Linked DNA regions of Homo sapiens. The protein of the gene in region 4 purifies or fractionates together with the protein of the main gene of each other region. This does not show direct contact. Each region holds a gene or a part of one and is shown on either strand. Other genes may lie near its edges.

What was found.
Region 1: the proteins of NXPH2 (region 4) and MADD purify together in Homo sapiens (affinity purification with mass spectrometry; 3 studies listed by BioGRID and IntAct, with this or other methods). This does not show direct contact.
Region 2: the proteins of NXPH2 (region 4) and FREM2 purify together in Homo sapiens (affinity purification with mass spectrometry; 3 studies listed by BioGRID and IntAct, with this or other methods). This does not show direct contact.
Region 3: the proteins of NXPH2 (region 4) and NRP2 purify together in Homo sapiens (affinity purification with mass spectrometry; 3 studies listed by BioGRID and IntAct, with this or other methods). This does not show direct contact.

What each region holds. Positions count from the first base shown.
Region 1 is NC_000011.10:47,265,425-47,273,208, reverse strand, and holds the start of MADD (MAP kinase-activating death domain protein), read right to left. Parts: upstream 3,077-7,784; 5' UTR 2,963-3,076; intron 2,553-2,962; exon of another isoform or gene 2,229-2,552; intron 2,131-2,228; exon of another isoform or gene 1,967-2,130; intron 1,248-1,966; exon of another isoform or gene 1,099-1,247; intron 1-1,098. Other genes in the region: NR1H3 (oxysterols receptor LXR-alpha), read right to left, coding at 4,513-4,659, 4,854-4,948, 5,183-5,296. UniProt on the Homo sapiens protein: Guanyl-nucleotide exchange factor that regulates small GTPases of the Rab family. Converts GDP-bound inactive form of RAB27A and RAB27B to the GTP-bound active forms.
Region 2 is NC_000013.11:38,682,875-38,690,085, forward strand, and holds the start of FREM2 (FRAS1-related extracellular matrix protein 2 precursor), read left to right. Parts: upstream 1-4,202; 5' UTR 4,203-4,470; coding exon 4,471-7,211. UniProt on the Homo sapiens protein: Extracellular matrix protein required for maintenance of the integrity of the skin epithelium and for maintenance of renal epithelia. Required for epidermal adhesion. Involved in the development of eyelids and the anterior segment of the eyeballs.
Region 3 is NC_000002.12:205,677,758-205,685,550, reverse strand, and holds the start of NRP2 (neuropilin-2 isoform 2 precursor), read right to left. Parts: upstream 3,051-7,793; 5' UTR 2,261-3,050; coding exon 2,188-2,260; intron 1-2,187.
Region 4 is NC_000002.12:138,770,358-138,777,456, forward strand, and holds part of NXPH2 (neurexophilin-2 precursor), read right to left. Parts: intron 1-7,099. UniProt on the Homo sapiens protein: May be signaling molecules that resemble neuropeptides and that act by binding to alpha-neurexins and possibly other receptors.

The DNA.
Region 1 (7,784 bases), on a different chromosome or scaffold from region 4:
GTCACTCTCAGGATCCCTCCAGGGTGGATCAGGATCAAACCAGACTCCTCAACTAGCTAGCACTAACCTGCACTTCTAGGTCTAGATGGAAACTTAATTATTCTGTTTCAACAATCTACATTCAGCTTGATGTAAAACTACCACATAGACTGTCTAGTTAACCATGCTCAGACAATAACAGCTGGCTATTCTACCTCATGTGATCTCAAATGAAAATGTCCATGCCCCAATTGCCTAATCTGCACCACTTTTCTCCCTCCTTCAGGCAAGAAAGGAGCCCAGAGGCCACTGCTACTAGCTCTGCCCTTGGTGCTGAATCATAATCTCTCCTCTATTTTGATCTCAGGCTCAGAATCAGTAATACAATACCCACAGATGAGTCCTTGTCCTACTATACATTACAGAGGCTATGAATTAGAGGCAGAAATACCAGGATTTCTGCAAGGACAGGGAGACGTGCTCAGAGAAATTTCTAAACTATGTCCTAAAATTAGGAAAAGCTTTCATGGTCTTAATTATAATTTATTTCGTGTTAAGTGTCTATACACTTCTCTAAATAAAACGTTTCACCCCGCTGCACAGCTATTTCTGGTAGGGCTACTTCTTCTATGAGTAGAAGTTCTTTTCTCATATTTCTAGTGTTCCAGGATTCTACCTCTGTGCTCTACATGCGGCCTAAGACCTTGTTCAATGCACACGGAGAGAAACCCATTATCGTATACACACACACACCCTCTACTCCCTCACCTGCTGCTGCGGGCACTCCCATATATACAGACATACACACTCCCTGGATGCTTAAGGCCCTATTTGGTTTAGGTAATGAGTAGAAGTTTTTTCTCCCCTACCTAACAATAAACAAGACCTATTTGCAATACCTCTCAAATCCTCAAAATACTGCTTTCTCCTTTCCCTTGCTCCCAGTAGAGGACCTGCAGGTAATAGGATTCAGTTTTATCTCTATAGCGACTCTGGCTCCCAGCACTATTTATAGCAGAGCCACAGCCCCTCCCCTGCTTGGTGACCGCACAGTGCTAGCAGCTGCTACTCCAGAGTCAGCCAAGGCCCATAACAATTCACTCTCCTCGAACCTAGAGACACTTCTCCCACTGACAGTACCTGCTAAGAATTAGGTTGTCTTCTCCCTCATCTGTCTGTAGTTTGTACTTCGTCCTAATTCTGGCTTTTGATAGTGATATCTCTAGAACACCACCAGGTTTCTGAGCACGCCATATATTCATTTCTAGGTATCACCACTGCTTAACGAACCCAAATAGTCCCTTGGTTCTCCCAACTGCAATAGAGTCATGAGCAAACTGCAGGAGGTGGGGCACTATAACAGAGCCGCACTCAGCTCCTCCTGAGCAGAATCCAAGGGGGAGAGAAATAGAGAAATGAAATGGGATATGAGTAAAAAGCATAATTTGTTTTAATAAAGAATTATGTAGTTAACCTGTCATGGGATTCGAAAAAAAAAAAAGAATTATGTAGAAATGACTAGAGTGAGAGCCAAAGTATCTTAAAGTAAAACAGAATTTATAGAACCAGAGCTCTAGACTACACCTTGCAATCTATGTTTACATTGAAAACCCGGAGCCCTCTCCAACCAAAATCTCAAAGATCAGGCCTGAAGCACCTCCTACTGAGTACGCATCAGGCCTCTCTAGCCTTGGTGGGATCTCAGTCCCTCTCCACTGACAACTATCTGACGAAACTCAAGTCACTCACAATCATTTCCTTCCAGAGCCACAAGGACCCTGAGATCTTGTTATTATTCTAGCTACGGGTGGTAGGATAAATTTTTAGCCAGAGTTCACATCTGATCAGCAGCCACTGCCTTCAGTTATTCAGATTGCAAAGATAACTAAGATTTTCCTTCTCATTCTCTCCTCTCTCCCCTCCCCAAAAAGACTAACACCTTTAACTCCTCTAAAGACTAAATCCTCTAACATCACCCACAACTCACACTCTTGTCTTCACAACCAACGAGGCTCCGACTCTGCCTCTTGCCTCAACCATGTTTACTAACGTAGAGCCTCTGGTTCCTATCTTCCTGTATTCCAAAAGCATCCAGCTCAAAATGCATATCTATCTGCTGAAGTCCGACATCACCATCAGCTCCACCCAGAGGTAGATTTAGGATTCACAAACTTTTAAGTTATCTATGCCTTTTCAGCAGAAATAGCCATGCTAACCAACCCTTTGGATTCGTCCCTCATTTTGGACAGGATCTCACAGTAAAACCACAGGAACCAGAGAGCGATATGACATCTCTGCTGACGTGAACACAACAGGAGGCTCTCCTCCCCTCCTCTACCTCCCCAGGCAGTGACCTTGCAAGCTCATCAGCACAGACTGGTCCAGCGTATGGGAGAACTGGAGCAAGGAGGCTGGCAGCTGGCAGGGTTGGGGTAGAGGGGAGGGCAGGGAAAGGTGGAAGAAGGTAGATACACGAGGATGGGGAGGAGAGCGATTGCAGAAAGATGAAATGGTGTTCTCTCTCCAGCAAGTCAATTTTGAAATATCAAGTTAAAAAAAAAATTTCTTGAGAACCAAACGTGTTTCTCCAAATTCTAGCCAAAAATAAGGCGCAAGCACGCACACGCACAAGCACACCCGCCAAGCGCTGTGCGGGTTCGGCCCCAGGGCTGGCCAGCTCTGCCCGCCCCCTCACCTGCTGGACAGTTCTCCCCCGCCCCCGCCCCCGCCCCGAACCTGAACCCGAGCCGCCCGCTCGGCAGGAACCAAGCCCAGTAGCCTGAGCCCCCTCCTCTGCCCGGGGCGCCCCCATCCCCGTCCCCGCCCCTCCTCGGCAGACCCCCGTCCCCACGCCCCTTCACACTCCCCCAGGGCCTCCTGAGAGACCCCTTCCTCCAAGAGCCACGGTGTCCTCTCAGAGCCCGTCTCCCGCTCGGAGTCCCCAGACGCTCGCCCAGGACCCCACCGGCCCAGACTCTCCTACCTCCCAAGCTCTGGGGGACTGGCCAGGCCCAGCCCGACGTCCCCCGGCAGCGGGGCGTCAGTCGCTCCCCAGCGCGGCGCCGCTCCGAGCGGGCGCCAGTTCCGCGTCTGCACTGGGGGGCACGCACCACTCGCGCGGGGTGCGGAGGGGGAGGCCGGGGCCGGGGCCGTACCATTCAGCCCGGGGGGCCGGGGCTGCACCGAGCCGAGCGCCGCGGGGCGGGGCCGACCTCGGGAGACAGCGGCTGCGCACAGACCTAGCCTAGCGCCCGTGGGCGCGGGAGGGCGCGCCAGGCCGACCCAGCGCCGTCGCGTGCCAAGTGGGGGACCCACAGCAGTACCTTCTGTTTGGGTTGCTCAGAGAGACTCTCACCCGACGGGGTCATAGCGCCCGTTTCGACGACATGGGGATTCCTCTGAAAGTCACTTCCCAAGATAATCGGCCCCTGAGACTTCCTGACGGGCTCCCCATCCCCCAGTCCCCACCCCCCACTCACGCGCTTTGGCGGTGCTCGGCGTCCGAGCAGGGAAGCCGGCTGCCGAGCGGTGGAGCCTACCAATCCTGGGCAGCGGGGGCAGAGGGGGGCGCGCGGCCGCGGTTACCTCCACCGGGCGCGCGCGGGGAGTGGGGGGGCGTGGCCGCGCCGCGGCGCCCGCTGGGAGATGGAGTCCAGTCAGTCCGCGAGGACAGCCCCGCCTCAGGACATCCTCCCCGCGGCCACACGGCTCTTCTCTTCCTGTCCCAAAGGGCCTGGGGACCGACACTGGGTTCTAGGTCTTTCAGGTTGTGCCTTTTTCAGATGCCAAAGGAAAAACCAAGGCATGCTACACATGCACGTGAGGTGCACCGCCGACGCCTTAGCGCTGAAATCCAACACTTCCTCCTCCACCGCAGAAAGGCAACCGGATCCTACCCGGATCCCAGCAGGGGAAGGGGGCGCCTAAGCCTCAGCATTCCATTTACCCATATGGCGCAGTGGGGGTTAGTAAGAAGAGGCCCCCTCTCACGGCCAAGGCTGTCATTTGTGACTCTCCCTCCTCTGGGCCTGGAGGCGGATCCTAAAGATCGCAGGCTTCCTCCTCTATTACCGTGTCCCCACCCCCAATCCAGAAATTGGTTTCTCTCATTTTGTATTCATTTTGATCTTCCTGTTCAAACAGTACCAGACCTATCAGTGAGGCGGCGCTGAGGCATTTATGGCCATACCACAGAGTGACAGTGGAGAATTTTTCTTGGGGCCCTGTGGGAAAAACAGGAAGTGGTGGAGGCAGGATGGGCAGGGCTCTGGAGAACCCTGTGCAAAGTGGCCCCCAGGCCCATCCGTTTGTGGGGTCAGCATGATCTTCAGACACAGCACAGTGTTAGCGAGGGCTCCACTGCTCAGTAGCCACAAAACTCGCAACCCTTTGACTCTCTTTTAATGCCACGGGAGGATCTCCTTGCCCAGCTCCCAGGAATGTTTGCCCTTCTCAGTCTGTTCCACTTCTAGGAGGCAGCCACCAGGCCTCAGCCATCCGGCCAAGAAAACAGAAAATATGGGGACAGAACAGTCATTCGTGCACATCCCAGATCTCAGAGAGCAGCGGTGGGAGCTTTTTGTCCTGCAGACGCAGTGCAAACACTTGCTCTGAGTGGACGCTGCTCAGGGTCCGGAGGCTCACCAGTTTCATTAGCATCCGTGGGAACATCAGTCGGTCCTGGGGAAAGGAGAGAGACAAACACAGCTTTTGCCTGTCCCCAGGGAAGCGGGGCAAGAGTAGGGGAGTTGTGGGAGAGGTGAATTGTCTGCACAGCATGCAGTCAGAGAGAAATTCTTGAAGGGAAAGTAGGTATGTCAGGGAATGGGCCTGTGTGTGGGAAGGAGGAAAAGGAACACCATGGGGAGACTCACATGGGGATGGTGGATGGAGACGTAGGCATGCAGGGCTTCCACATATGTGTGCTGCAGCCTCTCTACCTGGAGCTGGTCCTGCACGTTGGGCCGGTCTATAGGTCACCAAGAGAGTTGAGGAGCAGGTCTGGCCAGGGTCCAGTTCCATACCCCAAATTGCAACCAAAATATAGAGACATGCTCCAGCCAAGCTCTCTCATCCTAAAATAACACAGCAAATGCCTCCACCCTCCCAAGCCACCACCCCCCTCCCCCCACCGATTCCTGTGGGACCTGCAGCCCTCCTTGGTGTAAGTCTCTTGCTGTTTCCCATTGCCCCTCCTCCACACCTGCAGAGAAGATGCTGATAGCAATGAGCAAGGCAAACTCGGCATCATTGAGTTGCAGCTCATTCATGGCCCTGGAGAACTCGAAGATGGGGTTGATGAATTCCACTTGCAGCCCTGGGGAGGAAGAAGGGAGGCTGACGCAAGCAGCAGGAGCAGCAGGAACTTTCTTCTCTCCTCACCTTAGGGAACTATTAGGAACTCACTAAGAAGTTTACTGAGGCCGGGCACAGTGGCTCACGCCTGTAATCCCAGCACTTTCGGAGGCTGAGGCGGGCGGATCACCTGAAGTCAGGAGTTCGAGAAGAGCCTGGCCAACATGGCGAAACCCCGTCTGTACTAAAAACACAAAAACTAGCCGGGCGTGGTGGCAGGTGCCTGTAATCCCAGCTACTTGGGAGGCTGAGGCAGGAGAATTGCTTGAACACGGGAGGCAGAGGTTGCAGTGACCCAAGATTGCACTACTGCACTCCAGCCTGGGCGATAGAGCGAGATTCCGTCAAAAAAAAAAAAAAGGTCTACAAGGCTTTGCTGTGTAACCTTGAGCAAATGTCTTAACCCCTCTATAAGCCTCATCTGTGAAATGGGAATCATATCTGAACCCTTCTCAGAAAATTGTTGGTATAGTTCAATGACAAAGTATGCAGGGCACTTAGCGCTGTGTCTGGCACACAAGAGGTGCTGAATTAAATAATAATTCTGGTATTCTTGTTTTTTTTCTTTGAGACAGGGTCTTGTTCTATCACCCAGACTGGAGTGCAGTGGCACAATCACAGCTCACTGCAGCCTCGACCTCCCGGGTGCAAGCCATCCTCCTACTTCAGCCTCCCTAGTAGCTGGGACTACAGGTGCATACCATCACAAGTAGCTAATTCTTATATTTTCAGTTGTGACAGGATTTCACCATGTTGCCCAGGCTGGTCTCGAACTCCTGGACTCAAGCAATCCACCCGCCTCGCCCTCCCAAAGTGCTGGGATTACAGGCACCAGACACCATCACCTGCCAATTCTGTCATTAAAATTCTTGAGGGCTCCACATTTCTAGAAATAGAGGCAACTCTTATTTTTGTTTATCAAGAATCGTTTTTCAGCAAGGCACGGCGGTTCATGCCTGTAATCCCAGTATTTTGGGAGGCCGAGGCAGGGGGATCACCTGAGTTCAGGAGTTTGAGACCAGCCTGGCCGACATGGCAAAACCCTGTCTCACTGAAAATACAAAAATTAGCTGGGCGTGGTGGTGCACTCCTGTAATTCCAGCTACTTAGGAGGCTGAGGCAGGAGAATTGCTTGAATCTGGGAGGCGGAGGTTGCAGTAAGCCGAGATCACGCCACTGCACTCCAGCCTGGATGACAGAGCGAAACTCCATCTCAAAAAAAAAAAAAGAAAAAGAAAAAAGGCTGGATGCGGTGGCTTATCCCTATAATCCCAGCACTTTAGGAGGCCGAGGCAGACGGATTGCCTGAGCTCAAGAGTTTGAGACCAGCCTGGGCAACACAGTGAAACCCGGTCTCTACTAAAAATACAAAAATTAACTGGGCATGGTGGCGCACCTGTAGTCCCAGCTACTCGGGAGGCTGAGCAGGCGAATTGCTTGAACCTGGGAGGTGGAGGTTGCAGTGAGCCGAGATTGTTCTACTTGCACTCCAGCCTGGGCGACAGAGCAAGATTCTGGCTCAAAAAAAAAAAAAATCCTTTTTCAGCAGGGCACGGTGGTTCACACCTGTAGTCCCAGCTACTCAAGGAGGATCACTTGAGCCCAGAAGGTCGAGGCTGCATTGAGCCATGATTGATCACACCACTGCATTCAGCCTGGGCGACAGAGCGAGACCCTGTTTCAAAGAAAAAAAAAAGACTTGTTTTTCACTGGCATTGGCCTTACTTATTTGAACACTAGAGATACATTTCATGTATCACATCCTCGAGGGAATATTGCAGTATGGGTGAGGATGTGGATTTTGGTGCCAGACTGCCTCGGGTTGAGTCCTGCCTCTACCACTTACAAGGCAGTGTGACCTTGTGTAAGTTATTTAACCTCTCTGGGCTTTGGTTTTCCCATCTGTAAAATGGGAATAATAATAGTACCTATCTCATAAATATGTGGCATATATGGTAACTACCACATAAGTGTTTGTAAAATAAATAAAAAAATTTTTTTTGAGACAAAGAGTCTTGCTCTGTTGCCAGACTAGAGTGCAGTTGCATGATCTCGGCTCACTGCAAGCTCTGCCTCCCAGGTTCAAGCAATTCTCCTGCCTCAGCCTCTTGAGTAGCTGGGACTACTGGTGCATGTCACCACGCCCAGCTAATTTTTGTATTTTTAGTAGAGACAGGATTTCACCATGTTGGCCAGGATGGTCTCGATCTCTTGACCTCGTGATCTGCCTGCCTCGGCCTCCCAAAGTACTGGGATTACAGGCATGAGCCACCGCGCCTGGTCAATAAATAATACATTTTTCTTGGAAACAGTCTTCCTGCTGAGAAGACTAAAATGCAACAAAACATGAGCTAAAGTAATGATACCTAGAGAATGTCTCTCATACACATTGTCAAAGTCTCTGCACCCTACAGAGTTCCCCAGGCTTTGTCAGATTTCTTTTAGCAACC
Region 2 (7,211 bases), on a different chromosome or scaffold from region 4:
ATATGTTACTCAATAATAAATCCATCTTGAAAATTCGCCTATCCTTATGATGAGTTTAATTAAGTTTTGCATTTCTAGACTTTTATTTCAATTTTATTTTTTATTTAAAAATAGTTACTTAGAGATGTTGTATTTAAGCTGTCCACGTCAATTAATACAAATGTTGTTCTGTATATTTTACAGCAAGCAAATGGAAAGGCCAGTTTCAAAACAGGTTTTCTGGCTTCTAGTCCAGTGCTCTTTCTTCTTCCCCACATAGACTCCCATCTGAACATAGCTTTGTCTGGAAAGTCTGGGCGCTTGTGAAGCCATATGTTACTCAATAATAAATCCATCTTGAAAATTCGCCTATCCTTATGATGAGTTTAATTAAGTTTTGCATTTCTAGACTTTTATTTCAATTTTATTTTTTATTTAAAAATAGTTACTTAGAGATGTTGTATTTAAGCTGTCCACGTCAATTAATACAAATGTTGTTCTGTATATTTTAGGCAGAAACAATTGAGCCGTTCGCAAGGGGCATGAATTTGAGTTCTACATTTTCTGACCTAGTAGCAGTGATACATTTTTGATTAGTAGTGTTTCTGGCAAGAATGAGACCTATAGCCAATGGCCAAGGGACATGAGGAAGCAAAATAGCAGGTCGTCCATAAATTTGGTCTTATGCCACAAGCTTATTAAAACCAAAAGGGAATTTGTCCACAAAGACTGACTCTCTTGTTTTACAGTTGAGAAGACTATAGTTGCAAAACATAAAGAGGATTGCTGTAAGTCATAATTTAGTGGATGTCAAAACCGCTACTGGAACCCACCTCTTGGTTAATGAGTCCGTAGCTGTTTGTCCTCACCCCTCAGTGCTGCTCTGAAATCGATGAAGTTTTGTGTTTATGGTCAAACCATGGTTTTGATGCCACTGAAGAATAAGCATTTGTTGAGAATGAATAAAGATGTTTCACAAGAAACTTCAATAATTCATCTGTAAGTATTTTAAAAGTGTCTATAAGGCAATCTTCTCTATTGGAATCTTATGACCCGGTGGAGAAGCATAAGGAAAATGAAATAAACTATATAATGAAAACTATAATTCTCAAAATTTAACTAGATGTATTTTTAGTTCCAGTCTGACCTCCAGTCCTAGACCTACTAGGTATTAGGTATTTCCTACTAATAGGTAGTAGTTAGGTAATAGTTAGGTAGACCTACTAGGTACTAGGTATTAGGTATTAGGTATTTCCACCTAAATACCTTGCCTGAATCATAAATTAATTACATTGCTTCCTTTATTTTAGAAAACAAGTTCTCTAGTGCTTAATCTTAGTCTGTGAGTTTTAGCAATCAATAATTTTAACTCTAAGTTGATATGAGACAACACTTTGGTATGACTTTAAAGTAGCAAACAAATTTAAGAATGTATTTTAAGGAATATTTTGCCCATGGTATGTATAGGAAGCGTTATAAGGCTTAAGGAAGTAAGAAGTGAAGTGTTAAGCTCGAATTTTGTAAAAAAAAAAAAAAAAAAAAAATCACATTTGCTAACTTATTCTTCATGAAATTGAGTGATATTGAGAACGCTGACTGTAAAATAATAATTTTCTTGCTATTTTAGCATTCATATCTTTTAACACTGAACTAGGAGCCTAAACAGAGATGATCTTCATCAATAATATTTGCTCTCAAATAAAAATTTGACATCTCATTGTTTTGTCAATGATCATCAATGTAAAATATATTTAGCCAAATGATAGTTTGAGTTACCTTCTATTTGATTTACAAGACAAATAACTAAGACATTTACCAAAAAATAATAATAATCTCTAAAAATCATTCTATCACTTCGATCAAGGCAGACAAAATTAAAAAGTCAAAAAGATTATAGTTTATTGATTTCCTTAGGCTATGTAAAAATAAATGTGGTCCTGTATTTTTCTTACCATGAAACAAAATATTGAACTCTGCCCTTGAGGCATACTACCATACTTCAAATGCTGATCTTATCATTGCTTGCAAGTCAAACAGAGTTGGACTTTAAAAGGAGGAAAGGAAAACCCTGGAGCCACTAAGAAGCATCAAGGGTCAAGCTGTTAGTCTGGTTCTGCTCAGAATTTACCCAGGGTCACAATGCCTGGATAAGGCCACTTTGCTTCCAGATGACATTTTTCAATACAAACACACAACCAGAATTTGAAATTTACTATAAAAAGAGCCATATTCTGAAATTGGTTTTCTAGTTTACTTGGCATCTTATTTGTTTTAATTTGGAACAGGAAATAGCAGAATTTCCCCCCATGTTCCGCATTTTGAATTCTGTATGCGATAATAAATAATCATATAAATTATAAAATAATAATGACAAAGCAAATAGGAAATTGGTAAAGAGTTAGATGGGGGATTTTCTAATGTATTTAAAGTAAGGGCCACATCCCTTCTATGCTCCTGGATGCCCATTTTGTAATAAATTGTGAAATGTATCCATCAGTTTCTAAGTTGTAGTTAAAAGCTCCTCAAACAATGCACAGCACACAGAATAATCTTAATTAATATTTAATTAACTAAATGTTACTTGTTTGCGTGCTTGCACACTTGCTTGGATGAGTGACTCCTTTAAATTGATCTCTTGCTTCTTTTTGAAAGATTTTAGAACTTCCTGTCTATGATTCCTGGAAACGGACACCACTCAGTAGGTTTCATGGAAAGGAATCTGGCATCTCCCAGCCATACTTATGTACAGAGTTTGTGCTGCAGCCTGGAAAATAGCTGTAACTGTGTCAAGCAAGGATCAAAATCCTGGTCTGGAGGAGCTCAAGCTGAAAACACAAAGGCTTAAAAGGATAGGCACTTCTTACTGAAATTACTCCCATAGGCACCTTCTAGCTTCAATTTAGACTGAAATGTAAAAAGACATTAACAATTTCTTATATTTCCCTCTTTTCCAAATTCAAAATCCCTTGGAGCAGGAAAAGGGCAATTATGGCTAATTATGACTATTACTCCAATTCTATGCTCCTGTTAGCAATCAGATTTGCATTACTGGAGAAAAAAAATATTATCCTAAATAAAACATTCTGACTATGATTGCTTAGGAGCCAATCCGAAAATGATTAAGTTTAAATTACAAGGGATCTTTTTTGAGGGGGGGAGGAGAGTTGATAAAAAAACCTTTTAGAAAGGGAATCTACACACTACTAAAACCAAACAAACACAAGGGGGCAGGAAGAGCTCAAGCTCTGACTTCAAAACCTGTTGGCTGAAATGAGAGCTAAACTATTTTAGTGTGCCCTCCGGATATTTATCAATTTTCGTGGCATGCAAAGAAATGTGATGCTGACAAGTAGATTTAGTTTGTGCTTGGTCTAATTACTGCGAAGAGAACAGGAACGTCTCTAATGACAGCTACCCTAACAGAGTCGGATTTGGGAGCGCCTGGGGCCACATTCCCTAGAATTTATTCTTTGGTGCAAGACTAGCAATTCTGATCAGACTGCATTTCTCACGCATTCCAAATGCCCTTTTTCCCTTTTACTCTGTGAACCTCGGTTGCAAAGGAGGGGCTTGTTAAAAACTCACCAATCGGAGGACTGTGCCCATTGTAATTCACGAGGAGAAGGCAGCGTCTGGGCGCGCCGAAGGGGGCTGGGCTGGAGTGCAACCTGCTCTAGCTATGGCTTTTAATTCCAGCTGTCCTTTTGCAAATATGCCCCAGAATTTCTTCTCAAACGCTCTGGGTTTCGCTTCAAACTCAAAAAGCATTGCGTCTAACTTTCCCCTGGGTTTGCAAGTTTCCTTGGGAAATGGCCATGCCCTGCGCGGGATTTCATTGACTAGGGCGGAGGGGTGGGGGTGGCTAAAATGGGTAACCCTCGGTCGCCGGCAGATGAAGTGAACCCAGCACAGCAGTGTGTTCCGGCTCCTCTGCAGGAGTACCAGATCTATTAATAGCAGCCCAGAGAGTAGCGCAAGCAGGGGTGGGCAACTCCTGGCCACTTCTTCCCTCACTTCCAGGACAACCTGTTGCGCCTCTATCTCCTCCCCTCCCCGCAGTTTCCCCGCCTTGGCCTCTAAGAGCTGATTGGCAGAAATTACTACCCAACCCTCAGCTCCGCACCTCCTCCCCCGACCAACGATTGGCCACCTGGGAGGACTGGAGTAAGGGGTGCGAGCGGAGGGATTTCCCTCAAAGCCCAGGGTCCGGGGACCTGGAAAGTAGAAGTGGAGGGATTCAATTCTCCGCGCGATTGAGGCGCTAGCGGCGGAGCTGGACGGCCTGGGAAGGCTTCGGCTCCTCGGCTGCGGCTCCAGCCCGGACGGCGCCGCGCAACTTTGCCATCCTTCTGGCCCAGCCCCGGCTACAGGAGGACCCCGCGGGCAACGCGCGGAGTTCCTGGCACTTCCCGGCGGTGTCTCTTGTTGTCTGCCCGGGGACCGACTTCGCATGCTCTCAGGCTGACCTGTCCAAGCCCGAACACCGGGACCATGCACTCAGCCGGGACTCCCGGGTTATCCTCGCGCCGGACAGGCAACTCCACCAGCTTTCAACCAGGACCGCCACCGCCGCCCCGGCTGCTGCTGCTGCTGCTGCTTCTCCTGTCACTGGTAAGCCGCGTCCCGGCACAGCCCGCTGCCTTCGGCAGGGCGTTGCTGTCCCCTGGTCTCGCGGGGGCTGCAGGGGTCCCTGCTGAGGAGGCCATAGTGCTGGCGAACCGCGGACTCCGGGTGCCTTTCGGCCGTGAAGTCTGGCTGGATCCCCTGCATGACCTGGTGTTGCAGGTGCAGCCCGGGGACCGCTGCGCGGTTTCGGTACTAGACAACGACGCACTGGCCCAGCGACCGGGCCGCCTGAGTCCCAAGCGCTTCCCGTGCGACTTTGGCCCTGGCGAGGTGCGCTACTCTCACCTGGGCGCGCGCAGCCCGTCTCGGGACCGCGTCCGGCTGCAGCTGCGCTATGACGCGCCCGGAGGGGCAGTAGTGCTACCACTGGTACTGGAGGTGGAGGTGGTCTTCACCCAGCTGGAGGTTGTGACTCGGAACTTGCCTCTGGTCGTGGAAGAGCTGCTGGGGACCAGCAATGCCCTGGACGCGCGGAGCCTGGAGTTCGCCTTCCAGCCCGAGACAGAGGAGTGCCGCGTGGGCATCCTGTCCGGCTTGGGCGCGCTGCCTCGCTATGGAGAACTCCTCCACTACCCGCAGGTCCCTGGAGGAGCCAGAGAGGGAGGCGCCCCGGAGACTCTCCTGATGGACTGCAAAGCTTTCCAGGAACTAGGCGTGCGCTATCGCCACACAGCCGCCAGTCGCTCACCAAACAGGGACTGGATACCCATGGTGGTGGAGCTGCGTTCACGAGGGGCTCCTGTGGGCAGCCCTGCTTTGAAACGCGAGCACTTCCAGGTTCTGGTGAGGATCCGAGGAGGGGCCGAGAACACTGCACCCAAGCCCAGTTTCGTGGCCATGATGATGATGGAGGTGGACCAGTTTGTACTGACGGCCCTGACCCCAGACATGCTGGCAGCCGAGGATGCTGAGTCTCCCTCTGACCTGTTGATCTTCAACCTTACTTCTCCATTCCAGCCTGGCCAGGGCTACTTGGTGAGCACCGATGATCGCAGCCTGCCCCTTTCCTCCTTCACTCAGAGGGATCTGCGGCTCCTGAAGATTGCCTACCAGCCCCCTTCTGAAGACTCTGACCAGGAGCGCCTCTTTGAACTGGAATTGGAGGTAGTGGATCTAGAAGGAGCAGCTTCAGACCCTTTTGCCTTCATGGTAGTGGTGAAGCCCATGAACACAATGGCTCCGGTGGTCACCCGGAATACCGGTCTTATTCTCTATGAGGGTCAGTCTCGGCCCCTCACAGGCCCTGCAGGCAGTGGTCCGCAAAACTTGGTCATCAGCGATGAGGATGACCTAGAAGCAGTGCGGCTAGAGGTGGTGGCTGGGCTCCGGCATGGTCACCTTGTCATTCTGGGTGCTTCCAGTGGCAGCTCTGCTCCCAAGAGCTTTACAGTGGCTGAGCTGGCAGCCGGCCAGGTGGTCTACCAGCATGATGACAGAGACGGCTCGCTGAGCGACAACCTGGTGCTTCGCATGGTGGATGGAGGAGGCAGGCACCAGGTACAGTTTCTGTTCCCCATCACCTTAGTGCCTGTGGATGACCAGCCACCTGTTCTCAATGCCAACACGGGGCTGACACTGGCAGAGGGTGAAACAGTGCCCATCCTGCCCCTTTCCCTGAGTGCAACTGACATGGATTCAGATGATTCTCTGCTGCTTTTTGTGCTGGAGTCACCCTTCTTAACTACGGGGCATCTGCTTCTCCGCCAAACTCACCCTCCCCATGAGAAGCAGGAACTTCTCAGAGGCCTTTGGAGGAAGGAGGGGGCATTTTATGAGCGAACAGTGACAGAGTGGCAGCAGCAGGACATAACAGAGGGCAGGCTGTTCTATAGACACTCTGGGCCCCATAGTCCTGGGCCAGTCACAGACCAGTTCACATTTAGAGTCCAGGATAACCATGACCCTCCTAATCAGTCCGGGCTACAGCGGTTTGTGATTCGTATCCATCCTGTGGATCGCCTCCCTCCGGAGCTGGGCAGTGGCTGTCCCCTTCGTATGGTGGTACAGGAATCCCAGCTCACACCACTGAGGAAGAAGTGGCTGCGCTACACTGACCTGGACACAGATGACCGAGAACTACGTTACACAGTGACTCAGCCCCCCACAGACACAGACGAAAATCACCTGCCAGCCCCACTGGGTACCTTGGTCTTGACTGACAACCCCTCAGTCGTGGTGACCCATTTTACCCAAGCCCAGATCAACCATCATAAAATTGCTTACAGACCCCCGGGTCAAGAACTGGGCGTGGCTACTCGAGTGGCCCAGTTCCAGTTCCAGGTGGAAGACCGAGCTGGGAATGTGGCTCCAGGTACCTTTACCCTTTACTTGCATCCCGTGGACAACCAGCCACCTGAGATCCTCAACACCGGCTTCACTATTCAGGAGAAGGGTCACCACATCCTGAGTGAGACAGAGTTGCACGTGAATGATGTAGACACTGATGTTGCCCATATCTCTTTCACTCTCACTCAGGCACCCAAACATGGCCACATGAGAGTGTCTGGACAGATCCTGCATGTAGGGGGTCTCTTCCACTTGGAGGACATAAAACAGGGCCGAGTTTCCTATGCCCATAATGGGGACAAGTCCCTGACTGATAGCTG
Region 3 (7,793 bases), about 67 Mb from region 4:
TATTTGCTCAGTTGCTCCCCCGCGCGCACCTTCTGCCCCATCTTGCTCCTTCCCAGAATTGGTTCTCGTCGCCGGCGGCGGCGGCTGAACCAGGCCCCCTTCCCGGCCGGCGCACACCGGGTGAGTCAGAGGTATGTGGCTTGGCCTCGCCCTGGCCACCCGCTGCCGGCTCCCAGGGTGCCAGTGCTTTGCTCCGCCTGAAAGCCTGAGCAGCTCACGGCTTGAGATCGCATTTTGGGGAGCTGGAGGTCCCTGGCAGGTCCCAGCTTCGAATCCCACCCTGAGATCCCACCCCGGGTCCGAGGTTGCCCCGAACTCCGCGCCTCTGGGCTTCTCTGGAAGTGACGCAGCACTGCTGGGGATTGGGATGGGAGGGGGTTCTGCAGAGAGCGCGGCAGGCAGGTGGCAGAGCGGGAGTGGGTCCAAGCGGGTGTCGCGCACACACGTACACACACTCCAAGCAGCGCTCGGGGACAGATGTGCGAACATCTGGGGTAGGAGATGGCCCCTGAGTCTTCACGACCCCTCCCGCTCCGCACAGCACACGGAACCTGAAGTTGCATGTGTGTGCGCGCCAGTGTGAGTGCCAGTGTGTGCGCGCTCGCGCGCTGGGGCCTACTGGAGTCCGTGTCTGAATACATAATATACTGTGGGCATCCTCACGGCGCGCGCGCGTGTGCACACACACACAGCGAATCACACAAACATACATAATTTACGCAGCATCCAGGTCTGTGAGTGGTAATTTAATTCCGCTTCAAGCTGGGAATTTAGAAATAAGGCAAGGGGGAACGGCGGAGGCCCAGAAAATCTCCCCAAGTGGGACCCCCACCCATCCCTTTGGCAGGATTTGCAGCTGCCCTGAAGACCACTTATGGCAAAGAAAGAGCTGCAAACGTGCGGATCTGGGTGGCAAAGGCATTCCTGAATTTTCTTCCCCCCTCAAATAAATGCCCAAGCTTAAAGTGGTGTGTGTGCTGGTGGGGGGCGTGAGGAGAAGGAAGGGTGACAGTACCAGATGCAAGGCTAGGATCCACTAGCTGATGTTCTGGGGATGCCAAGGAGGCTGCAGAGTTAGCTCTACCACTGCCGCCATCGCCTTGCAAGTGCCTTGGGTGAGGGCACTTCAGGAAGGCTTTTTCGCCTTTCTTTCACCCATTTCCTCCATAGATGGTTTCTCCATCTCCAATCACCTGTAGCAGCTGCTAAGAGTTTTGTTGTTAGATTCCAGACACTGTTCTCAGAGGGGTAGGGAGGCTCACTCTAGAGAGTGGTCCGAGAAGGAAGCACAAACCCCACTGCATTCCCCATGGATTCCCCTTTCCAGAGCATACCCCTTGCCGCTCCCCACAAATGCGGTCCCCAGACTGTTCTGGGCCTCGAAATGCTTATCTCCACAGCAGCCTGTCCACACACCCTTTTTGGCAGTGGTTGAGAACAAATTCCACTCAAAAGTTTCTAACCACTTCACAAGAGTGAGAGACCTTCGAGGGCCTGCAATTTGTTTTAGCTAATAATAATTTCTAAAAGAACGTACGATTTACTTTCCCAGACAACACATGGATGAAGAGAGAAGAGACCAACCGTCTTGGTTGCCAGCAGCACCCAACCCCAAGCCCCTATCTCAGCCACAAGCCAACTTGCTCCACCAGCCTGAGCCTTATGATTCTGAAGCATAACCAGTCATTCTCCAAAGAATCTACAGCATCTGAAAACCAAAACTAAACTCTTGTCTTTCCCAAGCCCTTCAGTTAACATTGCTCAATGTAGCTAAGTGGAGGGAATGCAAATGATTTATATTTCACTGGCTAGTTGGAGAAACTCAAGGGAGATGTGTTCTGCTTCAAGACAGGGAAAAAAAATTCCCAAAAACTGTAATGCAAAGGCTTTGTAGTATTTTTAAACCTTTGATTCAGTCCATATGTGACATATGAACACCGCCAAATTCTGTTTCAAAACACACTCACACACACACACACACACACACACACACACTCCTAGCAGGAGAGGAAAGTTGGGTTTTAGCAGCCGTGGTGGTGTAGGAAGGGCCGGCTGGGATCTCTCTTTAAATTATTGAGTACTGAGGGAGCCTTCTTCTGTGCCGTTCTGCGTGGCCTTCCTGCTTTAGCGGTCACTTTTAAAGGGGAAACCATGTTGCAATAAATAGAAAAACTTTCAGTGGCTTACCTGGTTGGCCTCTCACTTGGTGTCTTGAAAAGTAGAGGGCTAAGAAAACCCAGGTGAGAGGAAACATATCCATTTTGGAGAAGGTGGCTCTTTCCAGAGCTGGGTTCGTAGGTTTCTTGTTTAAATCTTTGTGTTTTTCTCTCTTTTATTTTCCTCCTTACAACGTCTTATGCAGAGGTTTCTAATGGTCAGCGTTTCCCTCCTGAGTCCTGGTGGCTTGTCTTCACCTCTATTCTTGCTGGAATTTCCACCTCACCAGGAGGAGAGTAGCTCCTGAAATCAGCAAAGAGGGAACAAGCCGGGAAGAGAACACGGTTTTCCTCTTAAAAACAAAACGCATATATGTTCTCTCCAGTTCCTCAAAGTGTCATTTCCTTTATCCTACAAATATCACGAGTATTTCCCGAAAGCCAAGCGTAACAATAATGATAATAATAATAATTAAAACCAAGACTTGCCTTGGGCATCACACGGCCCCCAGGCAGCTGTGTGATCTCAGAGGCGTAAACTGACACACATCCCGCGGCACCCTTGACGGACACACGGGCGGAGGCAGCCGCCGCCGGACAGCCCGAGTGGAAGGCGGCCGCCCTGCTCTTGTCCTCGCCGGGTTCCCCCGGCGGGAGCCTCCCCCAACGGCTACACCCGCTTGGCCAGCCTCTCGAGGGGAGTCTGAGGAAGGAAGCTGCTGCTGCTGTTGCTGCTGCTGGTGCGGCGGCGGTGGCGGCTGGGATCGCCTGGGAGTGAGCGAGCCCCTCTCCGAGTTCGCTGGCGCCCGCCCTCACCTCCACCTCGCCGAGTGTCTGTGCGGCTGAGGATGTGCTGGGGGCCGGCTGCAGGCTGGTGCCTCGCTCGCGATCTCTGCCTCCCCTCCGGCTCCCCACTGCCTTTTCAGGCCGAGCAGCATGTGGATGTCAGAGCCGCGGCAGAGCTATCCGATTACGCGCCGGCTCAGGGCCCGCCCCTTCTGTGTTCCTGATTAAAGAGGCAGCCGCGGAGACGCGCGGCGCAGAGCAGAGTGCCGCGGCACCCAGCTCGGGCGGGGCGGCGACGGCTTCTCTCGGGCCGCCGCAGGATCGAAGTTAAGGCGGCGCCCATCCCACCACCCCTCGCCCGCCCCGCATCTCCCGATCGCCCCCGCGCACCTCCGCGCCGGGCCGCCGGTGCGTAACGCCCTGGGGAAGAAGCGCCCCCGGGCACCCCCAGGGCGCGCCGCCTTGGCCGTGTCGCCCCCACCCAAGGGAGACCCCGGGGGGACGGGGGGAAAAGCCTTGTTCCCCCTAAATTCCACGACTCCGATGCCACACACGCAGAACCCAACACAATGCCACGCGCGATGGCGTTACAAGAGGAGTTGGGTGGCGTACGGTGTTTGGGGTAGCGAGCCGGTCGGCAGCTCAGCCATGCGTTCGAACAGGCAGCGGTGCGTGGCGGCGACACACACCGTCAGCCCGGTCTGAATAAAACCCCAAACACTCGCTGCGTTTACTACTCAGATCCTTTGTTATGTCCCAAACATGCTCTGCTCCTCTCTGGGTTAGGATTTCGTTACCCCTGCGCCTTTAACTGTAACTACCCTAAAAAGAGGAAAGACTTTCTTCAGCAAATAATTTCTTCAGGTAATTAAATTGGATTCCATCAAGTTCCCCCGAAAAAGTATAGGTGCTTGAAGGCGTCTCATCCAAATGCTACTGTAACTACGTCTATTCACATTTTCCCCCATGGAAACGTGGTCACAAAGCCTAGAGAAAGAAAACATCATTATGCCAACTATTTTTAAATGGAGGCGTGAAAACTGTTTAGAGGGAACTGCAAGCTAACAGTTGGGGAAACACTTGTATCTTTGTTTCTGAGGATGGCTTTGTGGATTCCAAACTGTCTTGCTTCACCAGACACCTATTACTACATTATCATAAAGACTGCAACAGAAACAGCCTAAATTACACCCTGCACATGTACACCTTTTCTGCCACAAAAGAGGTATATGAAAAATAAGAAAATTCAGAAAAATATTTACAGATTAAGATTTTTTTTAAATTAAGAAAGTAAAATTTTCTGTAGATTAAGAAAAATACAGTTTCGGTGACGAGAAACACACACCTGACTACCCATTTTCTTCTTGGCTTGTACTTGTGGATTCTTCTGGGTGGTTTCCCTCCTTATCTGGACTTGCCCATTAGCTTTATCACTTTTAGTGTTTGAAAAATCTGTAACTCCCACTTAACTGTTATTTACACTGAGATAACCAAAACAAAATTGAATCAGAAGTGATTTGCAAATAGTTGAGCCAAGCTGTGTTGGGGGGTGGCGCGGGATTTTAGAGTGGAAATCCACAGGCTGAGTATCACACTGTTAATCTCAGATGCCTGGTTGGGAAAGGCACAGCACAGAGGCCTCTGAGTTCTTCCAGGGAGCATGTCTCTTGGCTAGCCTAAATGCTACCTTTCATTCCCTCTTTGCCTCCCTCCTTCCTCTTCCTCCCTCCTTTCCTTCCTTCTTCCTTCCTTTCTAGGCTTGAGAGCACATCCACATTATTAAAAACTCCAGATTTACATTTCTCCTCTTTAAAGCTCAATTGTAAAGAATGACTCCAAGCCTTAAATATTTAACAAAGTAAAAGAGCAGTTTGGATTATTAACCTTAAGCAGAGATCCCGGTTTATGTCATTGCCAAGATGCTAATCTAAGGACAAAGAACGCTATCTGTAGTGACAGTCCCTGAATAGAGAGGGCCATTTAATATCACCTCTCCCCACCACTCACCAGGCATGCCAAACCATTTTTGCCAGTGCCCAATGTGGGAGACTCCTGTTTGTGAGAATAATGTAGCCAGGGTTTAGGTGAAGGGCACTGTGAAAGGGGGAAAGAAGAGAGAAAAGGTAAACCTAAGCCCACTGGAGAACCATAAGAATGACAACCCTGGACTTCTGGTCTTGGGGTCTCAGGGATGAAGGTCCCCATCAGGCTGCTTCCAGAGTAGAGAAAAGTAAGAATCAGTTTTGTTCCTGGCCTGGTTGCCTACACTGTAACTTTTCATTTTTCAGCGGTGTCCTACAGGGGACGCTCACTTACTTCCTGGGAGTCCTCTGTACCAGGGCTGCAAGACTTCCCACTCCCCTTGAGTGAAGGCCTCATTTCCTGCAGTTGGACAGAGAGTGAGTCTCAGGTTTCCATCCCTGGGGACTCAAGCGGCCAGACCATTTTTCAATCCTCTAGGGGGCAGCACTCAATAAATAATGGTAACACCACCCAGGGTCACACTTCTGGTGGTGCTTTTAATTCCAAGGAGTTCAAAGTGCTTTATCAGACCAGGGAAGATTCAGAGTGAGGCCGATCTCTCCCCAGCCTACTCTGAACAAGACCCCACCGGCCCAGAGAGGGCTTAGAATTGTTTTAACCTAAGACTTCCAAGGACTCTTGGGAACTAAACACAAATCTCACATGTGCCACATGGAAAACAAATCTTTAGGGAAATTCTTCACACTGGGACTGGCTCAGACCTGCCAGTCTTGTTTCCCTCTAGACTGGGATCTCAGGGTTTGACTGCAGTTGGTCTGGTTTCCACCAGAGGTATAGTGGTAAAGAGCTAGGTAGGCACCGTGCTTTTCAGTATTTTGTGAGTCCACATCCCTGGCCCATAGGGAAGCCTGCCTACCTAAAGGCCAGTGTCAAAAATCGGGTTTGTGATCAAAAACACTGAGCTGACTAGATAACAGCTAATTAGCGAAGCTGAGATTCCTGGCCACATCACTGACTCACCTAGGATGTTTCATGTCATTATCCTTAGTTGTAAAATAATACTAGATAATCCACTCCACATTCCATTCCTTTGACGGGAAGGGATGTGGGGGAACATGAAACAGGTTGGTAAATGATGCTAAGAGAAAGCTGTTACCAAGCCACACCCCTGTGGAAAGTTAAGTGTTCCCAGCTAGACAGTCCCAAACCTTAGGGTATATCAGCATCACCTGGAGGAAGTGTTAAAAATTCTGATTCCTGGGAACCATTTTCCTGCAGGTGAAATTCCTTGGGTCTGGAGTGGTCTTTGGGAATCTGTATTTTTAACACACATCTTAGGTGATTCTGATGCAAAGCCTCCACAGACCAGTAGTTGGGAACTTCTGATCTGATGTGTTCTATTTACACACAGCCTTCCATAAATGCTCTTCCGTTGAAGGAAACCTGGACAAGCATTCCTTCACATTTCCTCTCTGGGTACTTTTCAATATGGGGCAGATGTTTCAGGTTTCTTGGAAAAACCACCAAGAACAAGTTCTCGAAAATGCTGCAGTGGTGGAATTCCCAGATTTACCTGTGACCTTTAGCAGCAACTGCAGAGAGCCAATTTGAAAACACCAAAAGCCTCGCCTCATGCAGGCAGGAGCTTTGCAGGGACATGTTCAAAGTAGCGGCTGATGGGTTTATGAGCTGGAGCCAGACCTTTCATCACCAGCCCACTCAACCATTGGTGGTTACTAGAGGTTCGTTTCAGGTATGCTTTTCCATCTGTGTTCATCCCACTGTACTTACGAAATGTTCATGGATGCATGACTATGCCAGAGGTATGCGAGCAAGACAGAGATTTAGGTCTTGCCTCTCGGGAACACAGGATCTAAAAGCTCCAGAAGTTTCATGCTTCCACAATAGATATCACGTGTCACATGGTGCTTCCCCTTATCGGAGCCCTAACATCAATAAGCTCTCACCCTGAAAAGGAAAGATCTAAGGCATAATTGCATCTTAATCTGTAATTTAACACACTGCCCTAGTTAAGGTTTAGCTACATCTGTCTCAGAAGCAAAGCTTCAGTTAAAATGGAATAGGTCCTAATTTATTATTCTCTCTTTTGTTTGATGTCAAAGTCCAGGTTTCTGGTCACTAAGGGTTTTTTTTTTTTTCTTACTCGCCTTTTAAACAATCAACTTTTTTTTTTTCCAGCACACTTGAATATTGCCCAGTAGTTTCTATTTGACATTTCTATTCTAAATTGATATTTCTAGTATATTCTATTTGGTGGGTTTCTGGAATCCTTACAGATTTCCATAAAGTATTGAAATCTCCTTCACTCCATACTGGGTGTATATCTCATTTCTTCCTCAGACACAAACACTGGATCTGGTAGGAGGGGCCCTTATGAAACAAAATTTAAAAAGCAGCAGCAAAATGTGCAAAATTCATTCAGACCTCCCTGGAATCCTTGGAAAAAGAACCTAAAGAAGCCCTATTGCTTCTTCCAGTCTGCCTGGCTTTAGCATGAGTCTGATCTTCCTATGCTACATTAATTTTTCTACCTTTGAGGCAATAAGCGTATCAAAAAGACCCAGTCAACCCTCTCCCTTAAAACAGCACTCTCCATTAAATCTTCTGCAAGGACGGTGGTCTCTGTGCTGTTCACATGGCTACTGCGCACTGGAAATGTGGCTAGTGTGAGTGAGTCACTGAACTGTAGGTTGTATTTAATTTTATTCATTTAAATGTAAATTGCCGCATGTGCTTACCAGCTACCATGTTGGACAACTCAGCCTCAGAATCAAAAGACCAGAGCTGAATAATTCCCATAGAAACCCATAGAAATTCACACCCTTATCAATCTCTGTGGTTACCATA
Region 4 (7,099 bases):
ATAAAAATAAAAATTAACAAATAATAAACTTCATACTTAGTAAAGTTTATGTTAAAGTTGGAAACATGAGAACATGCTTAATTTCAGAATTATTCAATAATATTTTGAAGATTCTATACAGTTCTCTAGGAGAGTAAATTTTAATATGAGACATAATGTTCAATAAAAAGAGTCAAATATAAGATTATTTGCAGATGATATGATTGTCTAGACATAAAATCCAGGGGAATCAAATAAAAAATATTACAACTAATAACTGAGTTCAGAAATAGAACAGATACAAACATAAACATACAAAAATAAATAGTTTTCCTTACATTCCAGCAAAAATGAATTTTAAAATGTCAGCCATAAAAAAGATATCCATAACAACCTAATAATGTACCAGATATTCAGGAATAATAAAGAACAATTGTGCGTGAGCAATATTAAAAAGAAACTATAAAATTTAAAGGCTGTAAAAAACTGAAACACAGGAAATTACTTAAAAAGGCAATTCACAAAATAAGAAATACAAATGGTTATTAAATGTGAAAACATGCTTTATATACCTGATAAGTAATACAGTATACAATACATGTTAAAAACAATGAAGTACTTTCCTTTAATAGATTGTCAAAAATTTTTTTTTAAATACCAGTATTCAGGTAGTGTGATACAGGCATGCACATACAATGTAATACCTTATATTGGTACAATCATTTCAGAAAACATTTATAATTATCAAAATTCAATATATACATTCTCAATTGAACCAACATTTTCAATTCTAGGAATTTGTGTTACAGGTATACTTACAACTATATTAAAGAATTCAAAACAATTTAAATATTAATTAGAAAGATTAAATATATTATGGCATATCAATGCCATGAAATACAGTGAATCTTTAAAAATATAAGTTGCTCTATCAAAGTAGCCAAAATATGCTATTGCATTAAAAAAGCTTGTTACAGAACATGGTACTGTGCATGATATAATTATTATAAAAGCATACATATCCATAATATCTGGAAAGACATACGTTAAACTATTAATAATGCCCTGAGTATAAGGTATGAGGTGGCAGAAAGCAGGCAGGGGTGAGGATGGCTACTTAAAGAAATTCTGAGTAGTACTAAAAAAAAAAAAAATTAAACAGAAATCTTAGATGGAGTTCCCCAGAAGGACAGGCTGAAGCAAGTATTTGAGGGCTATTGATTTAAAACAGAAGCACTTCCGGGGAAGCCTTGCTAAGGGAGCAGGGCAGCTGGTGAAAGAATGGGAAAAAAGTCATGGAAGTGCGTGATCTCAGGCAAAGTCTTGCAGAGGGTAGCTTCAGCCTGCTCCTGCAGGGAAGACCGAGATTATCTGTTTCACCTCAGTTATATCTGGGAGCTGTCCAGAGTCGGGGCAAGGCAGCTGGGCTTTCATACTCTGACATCTGTCAGTCACTAGTCAAGAGCTTTCCAGAGGAAGTGAATGGCACCTGTGGCTCTGAGTGCATTCTGGCAAAGTGCCTCCCCAAAAGAAATCTGGGTGGAGAACCAATAACATCCACTACAATATTACTTTTATAATAAAATACATATTTTCATTAAAAGAAAGAAAAAGAGAGCAAAAGCCATGTGCTACTAGTAAAGTAAAATTATATATTAATGCTCTCAAATTCTACACAAGTCTGGGCACCTACTAGACAGGTTCCCTCACCCACCTGCTTGTCCTCATATTCCTACCTGTCCACTAGAAAACCAGGGTTTAGCAGCCCGTGAACCCACACTTTCTCTCTCCTTTTTATCTTTTCCATCTGGAGTGGTATAGGTGAGATCCTGAAAAGTTAGAGGAACTCTCAAAACCTCTGCTGATCCTAACTGGAGCCACATTACTTGGCTACTAACTTAACATGAAAATGGCATTAAAGCTGAGACCCTTGGCAACTGGCCTCCATGAGGTTAAATTTTATTATTTATTTATTTAGAGACAGAGTTGCACTCTTATTGCCCAAGCTGGAGTGCAATGGCACGATCTTGGCTCAACACAACCTCTGCCTCTTGGATTCAAGCAATTCTCCTGCCTCAGCCTCCCAGGTAGCTGGGATTACAGGCATGCGCCACCACGCCTGGCTAATTTTGTATTTTTTAGTAGAGACGGGGTTTCTCCATGTTGGTCAAGCTGGTCTCGAACTCCCGACCTCAGGTGATCTCCCCACCTCGACCTCTCAAAGTGCTGGGACTACAGGGGTGAGCCACCGCGCCCGGCCCATGAGGTTAAATTCTAAATAGAACTCCAGATTAAAGAAATGCCCCAAGAATTCATTTGTTCTATTCAACTTATTTGACTTTATGGCAAAGCTAAGATGAATGAATTAAGGTTTCTAGCTCAGTGGTCACTGAGCAGAGTGGGATGTTTCCTAGAAATGTCCCTCAAGTCCATCACTCTGGGTGTCAGTGATGAGTACCTAGAAAGACAGCACTCATCATCAAAGTGGATGATTCGAATTTACAATCTGTGCAGTCTACAGTCTGTCTCTGAAACCTGTGGTGTGCTTTTGTTGCTTCACCTGTAAAATGGATGCAATAACTATCATTCTACTTACTTTTCAGAGCTGATGCACAGATTAACCACGAAAGAATTTTGCAAACCATGTAGTGCTTTACATCCTGTCACTTGTCTTAGCACAAAGGCTCCAAACATTAAAAATGGGATGGTGGTGACTTCAAGATCCAAATCCATGAATGTTGGAAGGCACTTGTTCAGCACAGATGTGTGTGGCCTTGCACATGTTGAGTGTGAGTTAACAGTAAAACATCCAAGTAAAACAGAACAGTAAGTTATGGAGACACCGGCTTGGAGCCTGAGCAACAGGGTAGGAACTGAGATACAAGCTGGAGAGTCAGCAACACAGGAGCAACAGGTAAATTCGAGACTACGGAAAACACGCTTTTGAAAACTTCATCTTTTTTTCCATTTCCATAGCCATATTCCTCAAGCCAATCCCAATCGTCTCCTGTTTGAACTATCCAAGTGCAAAACTTCATTAATACATATTCCTGTTATCATTACTACAAAATGTTAAATGATGCTTTATGGTCCCTAGTCGTTTATTGTATGCATTATCCATTGAAAAGATCATACAGATTTTTATACTAATCAACCACTTTCAGTAGCTGTCTACACACACAAATGAGGAATGGAATTTGGGAATAGAAATCACATGTGTTTTTAACAGCCATACTACATAAGTGTTCTTTCCCTTTGAATAATATACATTATTTCTTAAATTACTGTTTTGGGCGAATAAATATACCTGCTATATAACTTAAATTGATAAGATTTAAAAATTATCATTATATATGATAAAGCTTGAAAATCATAATCTTGCATATTCTTGCATGAAAAGACTTACACAATTTATGTAAATTTTGTTTTTAATGACCTTAGAATCACTTTATGTGGCAAAAAAGCAGCAATATCTCAAAGTCAAGTTTCATTTGTAGAGACATTTACGTGCTTACAGTTGGATTGAATCCCAGGAATAGTTAGTCTTTCTGTTTCACTTGGATTTTCTCCTAAGGTTAGGATCATTGGCAATTTTCTCCATCTTTGGTAGGTCTCACATGCCAGTTTTTTTGTTTGTTTTATTTTTAAAATTTTGTAACATTTACATGTGAACTCCTGAAACCATTGCAGTTAGTTAAAACTATTTCTGATTTAAATAGACTGTATTCTATTCAGGCACACAAAAGTCACTTGCTAGTTTTCTGGATGAAGAACAGTATTAATCTGTAATGTTGTTTATCTTAATAATTAGAATTTAACTGAGAGTCAATTTTCCGTTTATTTAAATTGATGCAATGACTAGATGTTAGTTTACAATTTAAAATGGTATGGGGGAAGAAAATCCCTGAATGCACCATTTTAATTTAACTTTTTATTGATTTTGCTGATTATATGTTAAATAAGTGCTCATCAATTCTCTGTCTGGTTTTACTAAATTTTCCTTTTCCGTAAGCACAGATCTAGTAATCCATCTTGTAGTGTTTTAAATCTACTTCTAAGTATATACATCACTTGTGATGTGGTTAACAGCATAAAATACATGTGAAATTTATATTTAAAACAATTACATTTTTATGTAACATATATATACAGTAACTAAAGATGTAAATCATATGAAGAAAAATTCAGAACCCCTGTTACAACATATTAAAAAAGGAGAGATGTTAAAAACAAATTTTTATCTACTTTGTCATTATTGACTTCATTTTATAGATGAAAGTTCTCAGGCTGTTAAACGAACTGCCCAAGACACATACACACTCACAGGTGCACATGTGCACACATACACACACACTCACACCCTTGGACCAACTCTATTTTGTTGACTGCTATGTTCTCACTGCTTGCTGTAGTCTCAGTGTAAAGTCTGGATCAAAACAGATAATGAACAAATATTTGTTGAATGTTTGACTGATTCAGAAATAGACTCCAAGTCTTTTGACATGAAATTCATTGTTCTTCCCAAAACATGAATGGAAACATTTAAAATATCCTTCTCTATCTTCTAGTCTTACTGGGAGAATAGAATGTGATAATTGTGTGAAAGAAACTTAAAATTATGTAAGTGCATGGAAATCTAAGTCAGCGTTATTATCATTATAGTTTAAGTTTATAAAATGTCTCATTTCTCTTACCATTTAAGAAAGGAAAAATTAACTAGAATGGCAATTTAGTATACGTGCTACTGAAGTGAGCACAAGAATGGCAATTTTAGATACAACTATTTGATCTTTGTGAATGATCTGACTAGGAAAAAGAAAAATATTTCCTACAGCATTTGGGCTTAAATAATGGAAATTTCATTTTTAATGGTAATTCTATAAGGAAAGATAATTCCTTATTATATACCAATCTTACAGCATAATGAACCAAACACTTGTTTGAGAGTTTTAATCTAGATTTTCATAAGTTAAAAAATAACATAAAATAGAAGTTTTCAGTCAATCACATCTTAAAATTCTTTCTTTAATATGAAAATCTATACCACAACTTATACTGTAAATTGCTTTAGATTCCTTTTTTATTTAGCAGGATTTTGAAATAAAGAATAGAGTTGTCATCAATACCATTAATCAAATCACAGCTAATAAAAAATGCATTAGTAAATAAAGACTTATAAAAGGGCACCTGATTTTGGCATAATTAAAAATACTTATGACGAAATAGTGTTAGAAAATCTTACGGCAGTACAATATATATGTTAACTGGGAAAAGGTTATCTAAAATCATTTAAACATATCCCAACTTAAATTATAACCATTGTGGAAGTCAAAACCATAGGATTGTGCCTGCTAATTTAGTTACAAAGTCAATAATATAGAAATTAGTTTGTTAAATCACCATCCTGCATACTATAAGGATACCTAGACAGTAACCTCATATGGGGAGCACTCAAAATCATTTGGACCAATTTTTTAAAGCCGTTTTGAAATAATTTACTTCCAAATCAAGATATTAAATGCCAGCTTCTAACCAGCAATAATGCTTATGGCTAAGATAGAAATGAGATTCTTTACAGAAACGCTGACACAGCCTTAACTGTAAGCACTTGAGTGTGCAGCTATAATTCTTTTTTCAAATCTTTCCCAGTAAAGCTTCAGGTAAAAGAGTCCACAGAATATGTAAACGGTAAGAGACAGTCTAGAGCTTTTACAAAATCACAAACCTGTGACACATTTATATTCATCTTTGATTGCTACCACTAAACGACTAAATCATTCAAGGTGTATTGATTAGCTCTTTAATAGATAAAAGGTGGGCGGTGTCTTATATAAACCAACATTTCTTAATACATTTGATTGGCAAGAACTACACATTTTAAGCTGACAATGTAAACCCCTAAAATATTTTTCCAAAAAGCTTTCTGCCTTATTTAGCATTACAATTACTAATCAAAAACCATAAAAAAGAAAAAATTACAAAAAAATACAGAACAAAGATTAAGAAAGCTTTTCTTTTCCATTCGGAAACTAAACAATAAAATAATTTCCCAAGCAGTCATTTTTCTGTATGGAAGGCATTCACAACTGGACCAGATAACATAATACCAGAATAAACCAAGGGAATACAACTTGTACTGGGAGGTGGGTGACTGGAACCAAGGATTTAATTGTCTAATCTTAATTTTCATTTTTTAAAGTGTGTAAAATAATGATGCTTATAATGAGGAGTTCATTTTAATGCACGGCCAACTCTAAGTCATAACAATGATATAGTGGTGTTTTTTTTTTTTTTTCCTTCACATTGTCATATAGCCAACAGAGGACTATTCATCCGGCACTGGAAAATACTATTTTGATGTTTATTGATCAAGGCTGTATGAGGAAAGTTGTCATTTTTGAATGGAAGATAGTAAAGAGTTATCAATTCTTGTAAGTACAGAAGAAGAAATAAATAGAATCATCAGACTAAACAAATATTAAAATTATTAGTTTTAATGTAAGTACCCTTAATAAATTATGTGGTACTAAAAAGATGAACTTAAAATTTTACCATCTTTCATCACAAGGATCTGATTTTATAGGATTCTAAAAATTTGCCAACTTACATTGCTTTTAACTAATATTTTATTTTGTAAACTCAGCATTGTATCACAGTAAAACAAGTTAAAATGTGTAAGAAACTGATTTTTTAAATCAGCCCTAAATTTTATCTTAAACGTTAGCTAATCATTCATTTAAATTAAAATTTATTCTTTTTTTAATCTTCTTTTTACTTAAAGGCAAAAAATCACACTTATTACCAGTTACAAATCATCATGCAAATCTGTAAACAGTTGACATCTGGTGAAGTCTTTACCTTGTATCATGATGAAGCAACACTCATTTTGATATAATATTCATTTCAAATGCTAATTTTTTTCTTCATTAGTGGCAGAAAAGATATAACATGCTCTTAATATTCTTTATAAGAGTATGTTGCTGAATAAGAATTTTTAAAAAAGGAATATGTTCAAGATGGATATTTAAATCTTGCAAATAGTAATCCCATTAATTAGCTATAGCAACCTGTCTGTTAAAAGCACTATACACAGGCCAGGAAAATGGGCAAGGACAGGTAA